Linked DNA regions of Homo sapiens. The protein of the gene in region 3 purifies or fractionates together with the protein of the main gene of each other region. This does not show direct contact. Each region holds a gene or a part of one and is shown on either strand. Other genes may lie near its edges.

Region 1 (3,655 bases), on a different chromosome or scaffold from region 3:
ACTATTCAGAATAAAGCATGGAAAAATAGACAAAAGGATGAAAAACACAGAAGAGAGTATAGAGATATGAAAGATAGAGCAGGGTCTAACATACATTTAATTGGAATTCTAGAAGGTGAGGAGAGAATGAAGGAGAATCAATATTTTAGAAGAATGGCTGAGAAGTTTCAAAACTGATTAAAGATATCTACCCACAGATTCAGGAATCTTAACGGAATCCCAATCAGGACAAACAATAGGAACCCATCATTAAGACACAGCAGATTGAAGCTAAACAAAATCAAAGACAAAGAGAAAACTTTTACATGCAGCCAGAAGAATAAGACAGGTTACTTATAAAAGAGCTGCAGTTAGACTGGCAACTGACTTTTTAATGATGACACTGGAAGATGGAATGATATATTCAATATACTGAAATGACCACCCAGCAAAAGCACCCTTCAACAATGAAGGCAAAAGCATGACATTTTCAGACAAACAATAACTGAGAGAGTTTACTACCAATAGACCATCATCAAAAGAAATCCCAAAGGATGCATGATCATTTAGGAAAATTACCCCAGATGGAATGTTAGAGGTGTAAGACAGAATGAATAGTGAAGAAAGTGGTAAATCTGTGAGCAGATTAACTAAACATTTGGCTATAAAACAATAATACTTCGAGGCACTTGAAAATATAAACAGACTTGAAATATACAAGAAATGTAGCATATAAGTTGGAGGTGGTGATGATGGTGGTTAGTGGAGTTAAATTATTGTTAATCTTGTCTTGTTTTAAAGGAGAACAGCATCAAGAAAGAAAGAAAAAGACAATTCTTGGCTGTGCAGGACTCTCTTGATCATTGTACAATAACTAGCATTCTTGTCTTCTTTCCACTAAATATAAGTAGCACCCATGTCCTCCCATCACCATGGTTACCAAAAACACCCTCATTAATTTTCAATATGTCCCTGGGGGCAGTGCTGCTTTTGTCAGGAACTGCTTTTGTAAATTCTACAATGCTCAGGCTCCATGATTACAATTCATAGAACAGCAAACACTTAGAAGTCTGGCAACTAAATGATTGTCTTTTTTTTACCTAGAGGTGTTACTTTTAAATTGGAAAGTTTATTCCTGATTATTTTCATTCATTCGTTCATTCAAGAAATATACATTGAATGCCTATTATTATCAGGCAAACTCTTAAGTCAATAGACCCAAATTCGAGTTTTTGTTTGTTTGTTTGTTTGTTTGTTTGAGAGAAGATCTTGCTCTGTCTCACAGGCTGGAGGGCAGTAGTGCAATCCTGACTTACTGCAACCTCCTCCTCCCAGGCTCAAGCGATCCTCCCACCTCAGCCTACCCAGTAGCTGGGGCTACAGGTGCTCACCATCACACCTGGCTAAATTTTTAGTTTATTTTGTAGAGACGAGGTTTTGCCATGTTGCTCAGGCTAGTCTTGAACTCCTGGGCTCAAGCAATCTACCTGCCTTGGCTTCCCAAAGTGCTGGGATTACTGGTGTGAGCTACCGCGCCCAGCCAAATTCAAATTTTACTTCTGCTACTTATTGGCCGAATGAGCCATGTGACCCAGGAGTTTCTCTTTTTGACCCAAGTTTCTCTTGGTGTAAAATGGATTTAATAATAATGCCTAACCTTATCTAACTTACAGAATCACTGTTAAAATTGACTAAGATGCAGGGCATTTAAAAGTGAACAGAAAATTGTATCACATCCACAAAACATAGATAAGCTAAGCACATACTACATGTTAGCTTTTATTATGTGTACTCCTATGGTGGCTAAAATATGCTACATTTATCAGGACCAACTATATGCCGTGTTACTCTAGCTATGGCATGCTACTCGTTGCAGATAAGAAAGCAGAAAGAACAGAAAGGTTAAGTTGCTTACTTAAGGCCAGCCAGCCAGTAAGTGGGAGGAAAGGGCATCTGAACATATATTTGTTTGAAACTCTTGTTTTAACTTATCCACCTTCTGAAGAGTGTGGTTGACTCTCTCTCTGTGTGTGTGTGCGTGCGTGTGTGTATGTAGCATTGATTCATTTATTCAACAGTTATTTACACCTATTATGCACCAGGCTCTGTTTTAAGTTCTGGGGATACAGCAGTGAACAGAACACCAAAATCCCTTCCTTTCTCTCTTCCTTCCCTTTCATTCTCCCTTCTGTTGCAGGCTCCTCTCTCCACCTCTTTTTCCTTTCTCTCCTTTTTCCATCCCTCTATTTCCCTCCACCACTCCCCCTCCTCTTCCCTTCACTCCCTTCTTTCTCTCCTCCCCCCACCCCTCCTCTGCTCCCAGTCGAGACAGGACCCACCAGGCCTGGTGGGAGGGCCATACATTTTGGTACCAGTGCTTGACTAGGCGGATGAGGCTCTTGAGCTTGGTGGGGCGCTGCTTCAGGAAGTCTCTCTGTAGTTCTGTGAAGCAGGTGGAGAACTCGCCCTCTTTCTGCAGGTCGGTGCACTCCTCGATGAGCTTGACATAGATTTGGGGGTTAGGTTTATAGCCGCCAGTCAACTGACCTGTTCGGGCAAAATCTACAACTTAGGTGTCAGCTCTTCTCTGAATTTCCTTCAGTCACTCTGAGGGGACAATCTCCCTGGCCATGGGGTTTGATTGAAAAGTGCAGCAGACCCAGGGCTGGGAAGTCTTGAGGTCCATTCCTGATCCTCCCTCCTGCCCTCTCCACTGCCATCACCCCATCCAAGCCACCACCGTCACTCGCCGGAACTATGGCAGCAACCTCTTTACAGGTTCCCCCACAGCCTGTTCTCAACCTGGCACCTAGAGAATGCTGCTGATCATGCTGCTTCCTGCATCCCATAACATCTGGAATTTTAAAACCCAAAGATCTTATGGTGGCCAATGATGTCTGGTGTGATCTGGTCTCTGGAACCTCTCCCACCTCACCTCCTGTCTTGCTTCCTTTGCCCACTTTCTACTTCTCTGACTTTTTCTCTCTTCCTCAAATGTGCCATGGTCATTGCTGCTTCAGGGCCTCTGCACTTGCCATTCCTCTTCCCAGAACCTCCAGATCTCCCCAAGGCTCACTCCTTCTCGCCACTCAGGCTCAGGGACCCTCCCTCACGACCCTGTCTAAAAAAGCTCCCTAACCCCCATGGCTATCTATTGTTTCACCCTACTTAGTTTTCTTTTCTTTTCTTTTTTAATCACTCCTTATATTCTTTTCTTTTTTCTTTTTTTCGAGATGGAGTCTCACTCTGTTGCCCAGGCTGGAGTGCAATGGCATGATCTTGGCTCATTGCAACCTCCATCTCCTGGGTTCAAGCAATTCTCCTGCCTCAGCCTCCCGAGTAGCTGTGATTACAGGCACACACCACCACGCCCAGCTAATTTTTGTATTTTTAGTAGATGTGAGATTTCACCATGTTGGCCAGGCTGGTCTTGAATTCCTGACTTCAAGTGATCCCCCCACTTTGGCCTCCCAAAGTGCTGAGATTACAGGCGTGAGCCACTGTGACCAGCCTTCTCCCTCTTGTCTTTTACAACCATTGTACTTCAGCCCCCAACACAGGAGATGGCACAAAGGAGAGAATCCAAAACTTTCTCATACCCTGGTGTCTTTGGAGAGTCAGCATTTTTTTTTTCATGGCTGCCCTAGGACTAAAGGAAACTGTGACAGTTCCTTTA
Region 2 (3,655 bases), on a different chromosome or scaffold from region 3:
ACAACCACAAATCTCAAATATTTTCAAACCGCATTAACTTAGAATTTAGTGTGCCAGACACTGCTGGATGAGGAACTGAATAAAATACTAGACCTGACCTCAGAGAGCTCCCAGGTTAGTTGAGAGGCATAAAGGGGAAGAAATAATTAACCGTGGGACAAGTGCAGTGGCAGAGGTACGTACATACAAAGTGTTTTTGGGAGGGGCACATAAGACTGCTTGGAGAGTTAAGGTTGATGTTGAAAGGGCATGAGGTTTGAGCTGGGTCTTAAGAGATGGGTAGAGGTTCAGCAAGCAGAGAAAGAATAAGAGGGCATTTTCAGCCAGGGAAATAGCACAGTTGACAACATGCAATGTTTTGCCACTCTAGAAAAGCACTGGATTTTCTTTGTTTGTTGACAATTTAATCATATTTTACAGTTTGCTACTTTTGTTTTAACATACACTCTTATCTTTTAGGGGGCCACTGAATGGTCTGACTGTTTCCATATTGCTGGTGATAATAATCCACTGGCTGTGAATAGAGCAGCAAATAACATTGCATCTTTATTGACCAAGAGCCAAATTAAAGAAGGGTAAAAATTTAAAAGATTTCTTAGCATCTTTTAGAGTTAGAGAATCACTTTTTATATTGACTTTATGAATTAAAACTCCCAGTGCATTGTGACGTCATTGTAACCAAAATGAATATACTATGAGACTCCATTTACATTTTTAAAGTTTATTGAAAATAAGTTATATTTTTAAAATATTATTTTAGCGATAATTTCCCCACCATATGCAATTTTTCATTTGTCTTATTCATATGTCTTTTCCCCTACATATTGGAAGAATATTTTATAGACTCATTTTAATTTCACAAAATTTTAAACAGTATATTTTTACATAGGCTTCTTTTTTGCTTTGGGTACAGGGTCTCATTTTGTCACCCAGGCTGGAGTGCAGTGACATGATCATGGCTCACTGTAGCCTCAACCTACTGAGCTCAAGCAATCCTCCTGCCTTGGCCTCCCTAGTAGCTAGGAATACAGGCATGTGCCACCATGCCCAGCTAATTTTTTAAAATCTTCGTAGAGATGGGGGTCTTGCTGTTTTGTCCAGGCTGGTGTCAAACTCCTGGCCTCAAGAGATTCTGCCGCTTCAGCCTTCCAAATTGCTGGGATTAGAGACGAGTCACCACACCTGGACCATAGTCTTTAAAGTCACTACATAAATTCCATCGTATAGAAATACTGCAGTTTATATAGCCTCGCCTCTATTTTATTACTAAGTCATTGGTTATATATTTCATTGTCTCTCTGATCTAATTTTTTAGGACAGTGCTTCTCAAACATTAATGTACATGTGAATCACCTAGGAGTACTGTTAACACAGATCTGATTTAGTAGTTTGGGATGGGACCTAAGAGTCTGCATTTTCCAGGAAACTCCAGGACAATGCTGATGCTGCTGGTCTATGTATCAACATTAAATCCTTTTACGTGTATTAAGACAAGTAGTTGGAAGGCTTCAATTTTCTTAAATACTGATTTATTGTGATGAATTAATTTTGAATGGTTGTTTCATATTTATTGAGGGTTTTTTTTAATGAGCCTAGTATATGGCCAGTCTTTTTTTTTTTTAATTAAAACTGATAAACATTTAAACAAACGTACCTTTCTAGCTTCTGAATATTTTATCTTGTTTGTACCTACACTGTCTGTTCAACCCGTACTTTTTTTTTTTTTTTTTTTTTTTTTTTTTTTTTTTTTTTTTGAGACGGAGTCTCACTCTGTCGCCCAGGCTGGAGTGCAGTGGCTTGATCTCGGCTCACTGCAAGCTCCGCCTCCCGGGTTCACGCCATTCTCCTGCCTCAGCCTCCCAAGTAGCTGGGACTACAGGCACCCGCCACCATGCCCGGCTTATTTTTTTTTTGTATTTTTAGTAGAGACGGGTTTTCACCATGTTAGCCAGGATGGTCTCAATCTCCTGACCTCATGATCTGCCCACCTTGGCCTCCCAAAGTGCTGGGATTACAGGCATGAGCCACTGTGCCCGGCCTCAACCTGTACATTTCTATCCATTTTACTTTGGTTTTTAATATTTTTTGCCTTTTGTTTTGTGCAGTTATTGGTATGCGGTTATAATACATATTTTATGTGTACTTTTAAAAATTATGTAATGATTGCTTTTATTGCATTTTTTTCTTAAATTCTTCATTAAATGTCAATTAAATCCTTAATTTCTGCTGATAACCTTTGACTTATCTTCAGTTCTTAGCCTGTGCATTATTTTGTTTCTTAAACCAGTTGCTTTGCCTTAATGAGGAGGATTTAAATCCTTTGTATTTATTATTATTCATTCTGTCTTCTGTCATCTATATTTTTTATCTTAACTTTTTTCTTAGTCTTGTTTTATATAGCATGGCACATATTTTCCTTTTGGTTTTTCATCTTGAAACAATTACCTATATATTTGCCAATTTTACTATCTGTTTTTCTTTTAGGCCTCCTGTTATTACTAGTTTTACAAACTTTATTCTTCAGATACATCACCCCATTATCTATTCTTTAGTATTGTTTTTCTCCAGTGTATGTTTTATCAGCAACTTAAATTTTTGTATCATCGGTTATGTAATTTACTGCTTCAGCATTGTTTTTAAAGTTGTCTTTTGCAGTTCTCTGCATTACAATCATGTTTTCAGTTTGTTTCCCTTTTTTCTGAGACGGGGGTCTTGCTCTGTCACCCAGGCTGGAGTAAAGCGGCACAATCCTAGCTCACTGCATCTTTCAACTCCTGGACTCAAGTGATCCTCCCACCTCAGCCTCCTGAGTAGCTGGGACTATAGGTGTGTGCCATCATGCCCTGCTAACTTCTTAAAAAAGTATTTTAGAGACAAGGTCTCACAGTGTTGCTCAGCTGGTCTCAAATTCCTGGAGTCCAGTGATCCTCCCACCTCAGCCCCTGAAAGTGCTGATTATAGGCACAAGCTACCATGCCCAGCCTGACCTATTTTTTACCTTTGTGCCATTTCTTAAATTTTGAATAGGTTGATATTATCACTGATATCCTTAGCAGTTTATGTTTTGCTGTAGCAGTCTCTCTTCAGAAACAAAAATTGTTGTAATAACTTTATGCTTCACAGTATGTTGAAGCACCTTTCCTTTGTCCCCACAGCAAACCCTCCTGGGGCTTGCCCATAGATGCTGTTCAGTGGGATATCTGCAATCTGCCATTGAGAACTGGCTCTGTGGATATTATTGTAACAGATTTGCCATTTGGAAAAAGGTGAGAAATACTAGTACCTGCTTGTCTTCTAAATATGTCATTATTTTCCTTGCGTTTATTCTAAGTCAGGAAAAAAATCTTGAATTTTAGCAGACTTAGCAGAGCTGTTTTTCACTTAACAACATGATGGATTCACCCATTATGTTTCTTCCGAGAACTCAGGAATGTATTAACTACATTTGGAATCCTGACCATCATGGGAGGTTCATTTTTAAATTACCTGTAATTCACTTTCTAGCCCATTCTTGAATTATATATCCTACACAAAAAGGTGGTAGAAGACTTGGTTCTCATTCTGTTTCTCAGCATAAATGATTCTTTTTTTTTTTTTGGAGACAGAGCCCTGCTCTGTTGCCCAGGCTGGAGTGCAGTGGTATGATCTCGGCTCA
Region 3 (3,655 bases):
GTTTCTAAGTCTGGCTTATGGAACACCCAGACGGAGATGGAAACCGTCCCAGGAAACACAGTGCTTGTCATGACTGTAATCCTGGTGGACTCCAGCAGCCCCTGCTCAGAAACAGTTCTGTATTTCAAACACACAGTTTCTAGTGGTTTCATACAAAAGGGTATAGTCTGAAAAATGATTACATTTCCCCCATCATGATAGCATCCACAGTCGATAAAGTTCTACCAGAACAACCAAACAAAAAATAATTTTTTTTCGTTTTGATTTGGGGAAAATTAGACCTGTAACAAGTAGAGATAAATATGGATTAGAGATACACACAATTAGAAATTGAATTAGAGCTGATCTTGCATGGCTTTCTTTTTTTTCTTTCTTTTTTTTTTTTTTTTTTTTTGCGACAGGGTCTCACACTGTCACCCAGGCTGGAGTGCAGTGGCATGATCCTGGCTCACTGTAGCCTCTGCCTTCCAGGTTCAAGCAATTCTCATGCCTCAGCCTCCAGAGTAGCTGGGATTACAGGCACATGCCACCATGCCCAGCTAATTTTTTTGTATTTTTAGTAGAGACAGGATTTCACTCTGCTGGGCAGGCTGGTCTGGAACTCCTGGCCTCAAGTGATCTGTCTGCCTTGGCCTCCCAAAGTGCTGGGATGTGAGCCACTATGCCTGACCGATGACCATTTTTAAATTTAACAGATGTAAAGATCTAGTATTAATAAAATTTATAAATTATCCATAAATATTTTAAACAATAATCTATAAATATTTTAAATAATAATCCATAAATATTTTTTGACAATAGTCCATAAATATGTTTTAACAATGCCTGTTTAACATCTTACAGCTGAGTTTCTGGGGTATTTCTGAAGGGATGGTTTGTGTTGGTTGAATGCAGAACAGCCACAGAGAGGAGTTTTACTGCAGTACTTTTTCTACATTTGGGATAAACTGACCTAAGGTAATTTGGCCATCAGAGATAGGTAAGGGCTCTAGGTTTCCTCCTCTGCAACTTCCCTACCAAGAGTTAAATTACCATGAATCCAAGTTCACTGATGGAATTCTGCCATAAACCCACACATGTATTAGCAAACAGGCTTAGTTAACCAGTCTGTTCTTATAAGCTCAAGGAAGTCCTAGCTCACTGTCCTTTTAGGCCTGTGTTCTAGAGGCAGGACTCAACTAAGCTTCTAGTCACCTTCAGGCTTTGGAGTCCTGCATTCAGCTAGAGAACCTAGAAGAACGCTACTCCAAAGGGTAAGTCAGCTGCTGGATTCAGTGCAATCTCATGTCTTGGGTATAGAAGCAGAGAAGGCACCTGTACGTTATTTCTTGTCGATCCACATACCTGAGGCATCTTTCATGTCACCAGTGAAAAATTATTTCTCATATCCCTTATGCTAATTAGCATACCCTGGAGTGCCCATCAGAGAAGACGGTAGATGAACCCTCTAAAAAGAGGTGGTCACCTCATTACGGATTTTTAAGTGCTTACTAAAGACCCCTGGATAGTATATTCCTGAATAAGGCACTTCAAATGTCATCCAGCCACCCTTAGGGCACAAATTAAAACTAAGTAACATGCACGTGTCACATAGTATATGCTGAACTATTTTAGGATACTTCATGAACAAGATAACAACACATGAGGGCAAGGCTTGTACATTTAGGCATCCATAATGGTTTTTATTTACCCATAAGTGTTTATCACAGCCAGATTTACTCTGATGTTCCTGCTTATAGAAAACTGAAATATTTTGGGACTTCCTAATAATCCAGATTAATAATAAGGATTTTCAAATTACCTTACAAAGAAATAAAAATATCAGACAATGTCTACCATCTACCGATTTAAAAAAATGAGAATAAAAGTGATGGCAAGGTATCATTTATTCATGAACCCATTCTCCTCATTGTTGTGTCCATACGACTCATGTGAGGATAATAAATTAAGACAGGGAAATCTTTAGGCCATGGCAATCAAGCAAAGTCCTAGGCCATGGGTAAGCAGACATTTTCGGAAACCGGCCAGATAGTAAATATTTTAGGCTTTGTGACTTTGCAGCCCATATGGCCTGTGTTGCAATGACTCAGCTCCGCTATTGTAGTGCCAGAGAAACCATGACGGTCCCATATGTAAACAAAGGGTGTATCTCTGGTCCAATAAAACTGTGTTTACCAAAACAGGCAGAGGACAAGAGTTGGCCAGCAGACTGGTTTGCCAACACCCTGTCCTAGGCTAGTCCTGATTCAGAGAGAGGTTTTCACAAAGATTTTGTAAACTTCCAAATGACAACAGCCTTTTTAGCAGCCCCCATCAATTCTACTCACCTCCCATAAACCACCCACAATACTACCCCTTCTCTATACAGTGGGTTTCTATCGTTCTTTACTATTTCAGCTAGGCTTGAACCTGGCTCCTTGACAGCCCACGGCCAACCTTGAATATCCTAAACTTTGTATACCAGCTCAAGGGAAGTCTGCATTCGTTGCCATTCTTACATGTAGACTTGTTTACAGGAATATTATCACTGAATTCAAGGTCTGGCAGATATTTTTGCTTACACAAATACATTCTAACTCAATTAACTGGGAGGTGAAGGAAAAAAGAAAGACAATACGGAAATGTCAAGTCATTTGGAACCATCTGCTGTAAGAGAGCTCCTGAGTGTCTGTACACAAATATTAATCTAACTCAACAGGCATATTTGTTGAGCTTCCTACTATGCACAGGAAGCCATGCCAAGTACTATGTAGAATATGAATACAAAACAAGGAAGGTCTTTGTCTTTATAGAATTTACAAATCATAGGAAAAACTGAAGCAACTCTAATCAAAGAGGACTTTAACTGTCTAAAGTAAGATAAACACAAAATGCCCTCAGAAGGGTTCAGAAGGAAAATGTTCAACCTGGAGGAACAAAGAATGGAGGAGGCGGTTATTTTAACTGGGTCTTCAATGTGCAAAAGAACAACATATGGAACTAACAGCCCCCGAGGGTCTCTTGTGGATGTGCCAGGCATTGCACAGATATTTACACTGTCTCATTTAAGGTTTTATAGGAAATCGTGGGAGGTAAGCCTGGTGGGATCAGAGCACAGAGGTCCCTGGATACTAGCTGAAGCATGTGGCCTCATCTCAGGAGGGAGAGGAAGGGGAAGCTCCTGAGGATGTGTGAGCAGGAGAGCCATGTAATTAGAGCCGTGAGGTGAAGGATGGGAAGTAAGGGGAAGAGCTGCAGTGAACAGGGGAACCCAATACTGAAATAGTCATCATGAACCATAATGAGGACCTTGCCATGAGAATAGGAGTAAAAGAATGTAGATAGATTCTCAATAAAGAGCCTCTAGGATTTGGCCACTGACTGAATGTAAGAAAAGAGGCAGATGGCATTGCTGATAGGGCTCTGATGTGGTTCAGTCTCAAAGTCAGACACGGGTTCAAATTTCAAATGTAGAATTTACTAAAAGTGTGACTTCTGAGCTTCAGTTTCCTCGTCTGTAAAATGGAGCTGATAACATTCAACTCACAGGAGATAATACATTTAAAGAGCATGGATACAGTAAGCACTCAATAAATGATAGCTGTTGATACTATATATTCTTGAGAGGGTGAAAGCGTGGTAAATGACAGCTCTGAGTTATTGGGAAAATCTATGT

Evidence for each region.
Region 1: the proteins of FAM114A1 (region 3) and OAS1 purify together in Homo sapiens (co-immunoprecipitation; one large-scale study listed by IntAct). This does not show direct contact.
Region 2: the proteins of FAM114A1 (region 3) and THUMPD3 fractionate together in Homo sapiens (co-fractionation; one large-scale study listed by BioGRID). This does not show direct contact.

Annotation. Positions count from the first base shown.
Region 1 is NC_000012.12:112,909,922-112,913,576, reverse strand, and holds part of OAS1 (2'-5'-oligoadenylate synthase 1), read right to left. Parts: intron 2,527-3,655; coding exon 2,342-2,526; coding exon of another isoform or gene 2,319-2,341; intron 1-2,318.
Region 2 is NC_000003.12:9,380,044-9,383,698, forward strand, and holds part of THUMPD3 (tRNA (guanine(6)-N(2))-methyltransferase THUMP3), read left to right. Parts: intron 1-459; coding exon 460-575; intron 576-3,155; coding exon 3,156-3,266; intron 3,267-3,655. UniProt on the Homo sapiens protein: Catalytic subunit of the THUMPD3-TRM112 methyltransferase complex, that specifically mediates the S-adenosyl-L-methionine-dependent N(2)-methylation of guanosine nucleotide at position 6 (m2G6) in tRNAs.
Region 3 is NC_000004.12:38,870,714-38,874,368, forward strand, and holds part of FAM114A1 (protein NOXP20), read left to right. Parts: intron 1-3,655. UniProt on the Homo sapiens protein: May play a role in neuronal cell development.